2 linked regions of the Homo sapiens genome follow. The protein of the gene in region 1 interacts with the protein of each later gene in a biochemical or structural test. Each region holds a gene or a part of one and is shown on either strand. Other genes may lie near its edges.

Evidence for each region.
Region 2: the proteins of PPP1CC (region 1) and PPP1R9B form a complex in vitro, tested with the Homo sapiens proteins (2 studies listed by BioGRID).

Annotation. Positions count from the first base shown.
Region 1 is NC_000012.12:110,718,829-110,722,535, forward strand, and holds the end of PPP1CC (serine/threonine-protein phosphatase PP1-gamma catalytic subunit), read right to left. Parts: coding exon 3,644-3,707; intron 3,442-3,643; coding exon 3,307-3,441; intron 2,338-3,306; coding exon 2,248-2,337; 3' UTR 1,377-2,247; coding exon of another isoform or gene 1,306-1,376; 3' UTR 852-1,305; downstream 1-851. UniProt on the Homo sapiens protein: Protein phosphatase that associates with over 200 regulatory proteins to form highly specific holoenzymes which dephosphorylate hundreds of biological targets.
Region 2 is NC_000017.11:50,133,678-50,137,177, forward strand, and holds the end of PPP1R9B (neurabin-2), read right to left. Parts: intron 2,521-3,500; coding exon 2,291-2,520; intron 1,973-2,290; coding exon 1,876-1,972; intron 1,708-1,875; coding exon 1,654-1,707; 3' UTR 60-1,653; downstream 1-59. UniProt on the Homo sapiens protein: Seems to act as a scaffold protein in multiple signaling pathways. Modulates excitatory synaptic transmission and dendritic spine morphology. Binds to actin filaments (F-actin) and shows cross-linking activity. Binds along the sides of the F-actin.

The DNA of each region.
Region 1 (3,707 bases):
CAGATTTCAAACTGAGTCTCTCCTAATGATCTCAGGTCCTAAAACCAAAGATTAATCTTGTCTTCTACTTGACCAATGTTCCTTAAGAAAAATTTGAGCCAGATACCACACTCCAATAATGATATAATCCTTAGTACTTGATAAATGTTCCTTAAGAAAAACTTGAGCCTGATACCACACTCCAATAATGATATAATCCTAGTAGAGCAGCCCAATTTTACTTTATAGCATTTTGAAATCCTAGTATCAATTCATTAACATTCAGGACATAAAGATGTGCAGAATTTGCCTTTGACACAATTATCATTCACTGTTTTCTTCCTATAGTCAAAGAAGTCTGGGAGAATATTACGTAAAAGTGAAACAGCACAAGTTTGGATATTGTCAATGTGGAGCAGGCAGGTAATGAGGTCCCCCTTCCCTCTTTGATGGGAGCATGGCAGGGTCCAGATGCCTCAGGACCGGGGCTTGTTAGCAGAGGGGAGTCCATGGCCCTGTGCTCTTCTGTGTCCTTCAAAGAGTTCCTCGCTAGGTCCTCTGCCAACGCCCTCAGGGAGACCACTTTGTAACAGGAAAAAAAGCTTTTCAAATGACATGCTCTTCACTCATTTTTAGCGTACCTTTGAGAAATTAAGATACATACTTGTGACAAAATATGACATGATACTGTGTTCCATATAAACCAGGGAAGGGGGAAGAGATCAAAGAACTGTGCATGAAAATATAGGTGGCTGACTCAGAAAACAAAGTGAGCTGCTTTCAAATTCGCCACTAAGTTCAAGTGAACCCAGACAGTAAGAAAACTATGGACACAGATTAATCCCCATCTCCCCAAATGGTAGAGGAGGATCGTTCCACCTCATCACTCTATTACACAAATAGATGTCTCCAGGTTACAACTCAAAGAGTATTAGTATCTGTATTATAATCCATCTTTGGAAAACAGACTATTTGAAAGAAGCAAAACCAAAATGCAACCGTGTGGTTTCCAGAGCAATTTATTCAGGAAAATCTATTCAATATGCCATCAACAGTTCTCCTGTGTGTATTGTGCTGATAAATAGACACTGAGAAGATTTAACAAGTTCATCATTTAATAAGTCTGAATTCATTTTCACCACACGGTATTGTACACGGTCATCTGTTGAAACAGATTTCTTTTTTAACAGATCTTAGTTTAAAAAAGTCATAGGTACTGTGAGTTCTGTATAAACTGGTGGACAGTAAGTTAGTTCCTTTGTTTTAACTTATAAGCCTCAACTTCACCGCAGAATAAAGAATGTAGGCCAAAGAAAGCATAATCGGTCACTCGTATAGAACAGTATTGTTTCTATAATTTGAAGCTTTCTGAATGGACGGGTTCAGGCCTGATGCAACTGTAAAAAGATTACTTAATGAATAGACTATATGGAAATTGTATAAAATGTTATTACCTTTTATCGTTAGTAGCTTAAACAGCACTATATCACTAATTGCTATTCAAAATCAAAAACCTGTTTTTGAATCCCCAAGAAGGCAGCATGTGTATACAACCATACCACCTTGTACTTAGGGGTGTGTCAAAACATAATTCAACAGAAACTTTGGCTTTAGGAAAGAGTCACAAATATTTAAAAGAATGGCTTTGTCATTTTAAGTATACGGTCGGGGAAAAGTGTGCTTTAATTAAATATACATCATACCAGTGATGCTGGCAAGGTTGAAAGTTACTCCTAATGTTGATAGCTATAAAAACTAGTTTGTACATAACAAGACAATGAGAGGAAAAAGCAATCCCTTTGAAACAAAATTCTCAAATAAAAAATGTTCACAGTGGTTTGTATCAACAGTATGCATTTTATGACAAGAACATGTACAGATTCAGAGCACCCTAGGGCTCTCTTTATGTCCTAAAGAAAATGAGCATTTACATGATTATGGGTTGTACTGAATTAAAAAAGATCAATTGTACACTTACTCCTCAGACAGGATAAACTGTCCTGGGGTGTACAGCTTTAACACCATCATTAAAATTGTTTGCAAAAGGAACAGAGAATTAAAAAACAAAACACTTTTCTTTTTGGAGTGAAGAGTCTTTCATTTGCTGTTATAACCAGCAAATGCCATTCACTAAATCAAAAATGGAAGGAAGGGCCCCCACAAACACAGATCTATCTGAGCAAGCTGACCAGTACACATTACAGTCTTAAAAATGAAGGTTATATACTCTATGTTACAAGTCCCGACTAGGCAGTGTCAAAACGACATCTATTTCTTTGCTTGCTTTGTGATCATACCCCTTGGAGGCGTTACAGGTCTCGTGGCATTTGGCTTCTTTTTCTCTGCAGGCTTTAAAATCTGGAGATTCAAAAGACAGTTAATTTAGGAAATATACTCAACCCCAAATCTTAAGAGTCCTTAAATTTCATTCAGATCTTCTGTTCAGATGGTGTTCACAACTGCCCCAACAACTGTAAAAGCCCCCCTAGCATATTAACACAAGCTATGTTGAATGTAAACATTTGGTAATTAACGCTATGACGAACAGATAAAATCTATTATCTGGACAAATTATTTTGCCTCTGAGTATAATGACAATCTTCTGAAGTCTACACCTGGTAGTATCTTTAGCTACTCCTTCTGATACAGGGGAAAAAGTTCTTTACAAAAGTGTTTCTCCAACCTGTAGGGGATCCTTGCACAATCTTTGGAATTTTGAAAGCTGCAAGTTCTCTCTGATAATTGGTAAAAAACTATTTTAATTCATTTAACTGATGAGTGCCACATGATTTGGTGGCTGTATTTATGTTTATGACTAGGCTGGCTTGAAGTTGTACAAGTATCATAATAAGCAAATGAGAAAAAGGCTGAGGCAGATTCTAAATAATGCTTTTGTGCCAACTGAAGGCCAAATGATGTCATGGTACATTAACAGAAGTTTTGTGGAAGTTAGACTAGAGGGCAGAACTAAGTAAACACATAGCACAAGGCACTCAGTACTTTTCACATTCAAGTGGTGATTTAATTTTAGCTGAACATTACATTGTCATTAAGGTTTTAGATTTACAGTAAAAGAGCCATAAGCATTAAGGAGCCAATATGCAATGCAAAAATTTATAATTCAACACTGGGAAAAGGTGCCATAATTAATTTTTTCTTTTACAAGGGATCCACACATTATTCAACTATAATACACACTGGTTAAGGGAAAATAAAAACTTAGCCTACTCAGCATAAGTGAACACTAGGCAAAAAGTAGCAATTATATTTTTCAATCAGCAAAGTGTAAACATATTAAAAGGAAATCATGTTGAAAGCATGCTCTACCTGAAAAGAACACATTAGTGTTTCATCCACACTCATCATGGCACCTGCATTGTCAAACTCTCCGCAATAATTGGGCGCAGAAAACAGAGTGACCAACTGCCTCTTTGCAAAAAATTCATATCCATCTTCAACCACCTTGAAGAGAAAATTTTTTCAATATAAATAGGTGCAAATATTAGGTGAGTAAAACCATGTTTCAGTTTCCCATTGAGCCTGATATCTTGTGTTCCAGAAACACTTTGTATAAATAAGCAATACCTACCCACCAAAATCAACAAGGAGAATCTGTGCTCACACACATGCTCTTAAGTGTACATGTAAAATTCAAAATCAATACCTGATGGGCTCTACATATAAGATCCAAATCATGCTTATGGAGAAATTTTGCAACCACTTCTGCA
Region 2 (3,500 bases), on another chromosome or scaffold:
GCATCCTTGATCCCTGCCCACTCCCCACCTCAGTGAATCAAGAAACCAGGCAGCAAGGCTCTGGGGGCTGCTTTTATGGGGACGACCTGACAGAGGGCATGGTCCGTACAAAACCGGGAACAATACATACATATATATATTATATACAGAGATGCGGCCCTCCCGACGGCTGGGCAGGGGTGGCCGCTGGCCCAAGCAGCCCGAAGCGGCCCCGCCCACCCGGTTCCGCCCCCTCCATCTGCCGGGGTGAAGTGCGCGAGCCCAGGACTGAGACAGCCAGCTCCTTCAGGGGATGGGGGCACATCTGGGGATAGGAAGGGGTGGGGACAAGAAATACTGATCGAAGTCATGGTCTATTTACAGGGGACAAGAAGCCAAAACGGATGGGATGGGTGGTCTGTTTTTAAAAAATGAACAAAAACCCAGTTAGGGCAGGGGCATGAAGTGGCAAAATGAGATGGATTTTGAAAGGGGAGGGGACCTGGGGGAGGTGGTCTCACCTCCCTTGGTCCAAGCCCCAATTTGGGGTTAAAGTGGGGAAACAGAGTCGATTTCACTTAGAAGGCAGGCTGCCAGCAGGGCAGCCCTGGTCTCCAAAAAGATGAGTAGTAGTAAAATTTTGCCCTCCAGTCAAAACATTGGAAAACCAGTAGGGGGTGGGGGCGAGGCTGACTCCCTGCAATGTCAGTAGGCTTCCAGGCATCGCCCTGGGCTGGGCAGACAGGGCAGCACAGGATAGGACCTGACTCTCCAGGGAGAAATGTTCCCCTTGCCTAAGACCAGGGTCGCTGTAGCCAGACCCCCTTTCCTCCCTGGCATTCCCAGGCTTGACCAGGAAACCTGGACCCCAGAGAGGCCACATAACAGTTCCAAGACGAGGTTATGGCTATTTGGCACCTGGAAGAGGGGAGGCACAAGGAGAAATTGAGGGCTGCTGCCCCAGGCAATGGGGAGCTGGGGACCAGGTGTCCTGAACTCTCCCTTTTTCCCACTCTCACTCCCCCTTTTCCCGAAGGACACATGAGAAATCAGTGCAGGGCCAGGGCCAGGCCCAGCCTCCGGGCTCTGGGGTGGACTCTATCCCTCCCAGGACAGGGAACAGGGATGGGGGAGGTGTTGAGGCAACGCCCCCACCCCCCAGGCGGGAGGGTCAGAATGCAACAGAGACGGCACAATGATGGGGGGAGAGGGAAGGGCCGAGAAGGTAGAATCTCAAGTCAAGAGGCCCAGGGGCCACCCAGGTGCCCCATGGGCAGGGAGCAGCCCCCAGTTGGCAGATGCTGGGAGAGCCCCAGCCCCGTTCCAGTCCAGAGACAAAAGCTGGAGTGTGTAAAGTCTGGCAGTTTGATCTGCAGGTGCTTGTGTCCGTCGACCACCAGGCCAGCCCTCGGCAGCCCTCGGCCTCTGTGCCTCAGCCCCATGGGGCAAGAAAGAGGCTGCCCTTCTAGCCACCTCTGTCTGCCCAGGCCATCTTAAGGGGGCCTGTGATATGAGCCCTCTGGTCCCTGAAGCTGGGGGAGGTGGGGTGGAGGGGTGGGGGGAGTCGGGGCACCTGTCCCCAGGCTGGAAGGGGGAGGGGTGGGGTGTTGAGGACAGGGGAGGGAGGACAATGGGAGGGGGGTTAATTATTGTCCAGTCATGGAATGATTCCTGTTAAGTAGAATTGGAATTCCTCAGTGTTTGCAAGTTTCCTTCCAGTTCTGAGATCTGGAAAACAAAGGAGGGTAGGGGGTCAGGTCTGGACACCAGGCATGATCCCAGCCCCTTCCGCCCCCCGGTGAGGACATGGCATCCCCTCCCTCCAGGACCCACAGGGTAGGGGCTTCAATGCTGCTCCCTCCACTGGGCCCTGCCCACAGGGCGCCCCAGGCCCACCTTGTCCAGGAGCTTGTCCATCTCCTCCTTTCTGGCCAGCTCCGACTCCTCCAGAACCCGACGCTGTGCAGTCTCCTTTTTCAGGAACTCGATCTCCCTGGGCACAGGCAAGGGACAGATGGCAGGTAAGGGTGTGTGGTCTGGCTTTCATCCAGGGTGACCCAGGTCCTCAGCTTTACCTGGGCAACTCTGTCCTTCCCTGTTCTCAGGTCAGGAGGCCCCAGGTTTTCCCAAAGCCTCTGGGGGTCTGGCTCTGTGCTGGCTCTGATGCCTGGTCATTCCGGACCGGGTGTCCCCACCATGGGGCCCTCCAACTTCTGTGCCTCCCTACTCAGCTGGAGGGATGGGGAGGGACTGTCCCCAAAAGCCTCTCAATGCTCCCTGGGCCCAGCCCGCCCAGCCCCCAGCCACGTACTTCTGCTGGTAGTCCTTGATGAGGCGCTTGGCCTTGCTGTACTTGCGCTCCAGGGCCTGGTACTGCGCCTGAGTCTCCCGCAGGTGCTCGTCCACAGCCTGGCACAGGCTCTGGGCCTCACCCCAGTAGCCTTCCAGTTTCTCCATGCGCTCCTTGTTCTCCTCCACACTCTGCTCCAACTGCGCCTTCTCCACCCGCCAGCGCCCCTTCTCCTGCTCCAGGCTCTGCAGCTGAGAGAGAAAGGCACGGCCCTGGGTTGGTGGGGGCCAGCAGGAGCCAAAGGGTACCCCCATCCTAGCACTGGGGCCAGAGTCGCCAGGGGATTCCTACCGTTGTGGAGTCCATTGCACCCCAACTACTAACCCTCTTTGGCTGAGCCTGAGAACTGAAACCCAGAGAGGAAAGAAGTAGAGCTCAGCCTCAGAGCTCCCACCAGACTCCCTGTCACTGCACCCCACTCGCAGGGAGGCTGGAGGCTTCGGTTAGTCACTGATACTCTGACTTGGCGCAATGCAACTAATGTCCCAAGCCTCAGTTATCCCATCTGTAAAATGGCAGTGATATGTGCCTCCCAATCTCACAAAAGCTCCAGTGAGACAGTACATGTGAAGTAAAAGGGCAGATGAGGGTCACCATTACTCTCTGTCCCCTCTCTGCAGCCCCAGCCCTGCTCGCCAGTCTCTGCACTTGTGGCTTCCTGAACAATCCTGGTTCTCTCCCAGCTTCCAGGTGACCCCAGCGCAGACCTCCAGTCCCCCACAGCTCAGTTCCGGATCCTCTGTTCTCTCTATACTCACTGCCCTGGGGCACCGGCCCATCTCCCACACTACCTCTGTGCACTCTGAGCTGCAAATCTCAAGTCCCAGCCCACCCTTGCTCCCAACTCCCAGCTTTAGCTCCCAGCTCCTCCCAGGTACCATGCCCCAGACCAGGCCCCCGCAGCTGCACAAACCTATGCCTCCTTTCCTGACTTGCTCTGTTAAAAGGCGCCACAACCTCATAGCCATGTTGGCACTCAGTCTCAGGCCAGTATTTGCTGCAAACATCCCTTGCTCTCTGTCCCCCAGCCACACAGGCCTTCCTGCAGATCCTCAGACTTGCCACAGGGCCTTTACGTGTGCTGTCCCCTCTGCCTGGAATGTCCCCCATCTACCCTCCTGCTTGCCTAGTTATTTCCCTCTAGCTCACCCTTCAGCTCTCTGCTGTGTGT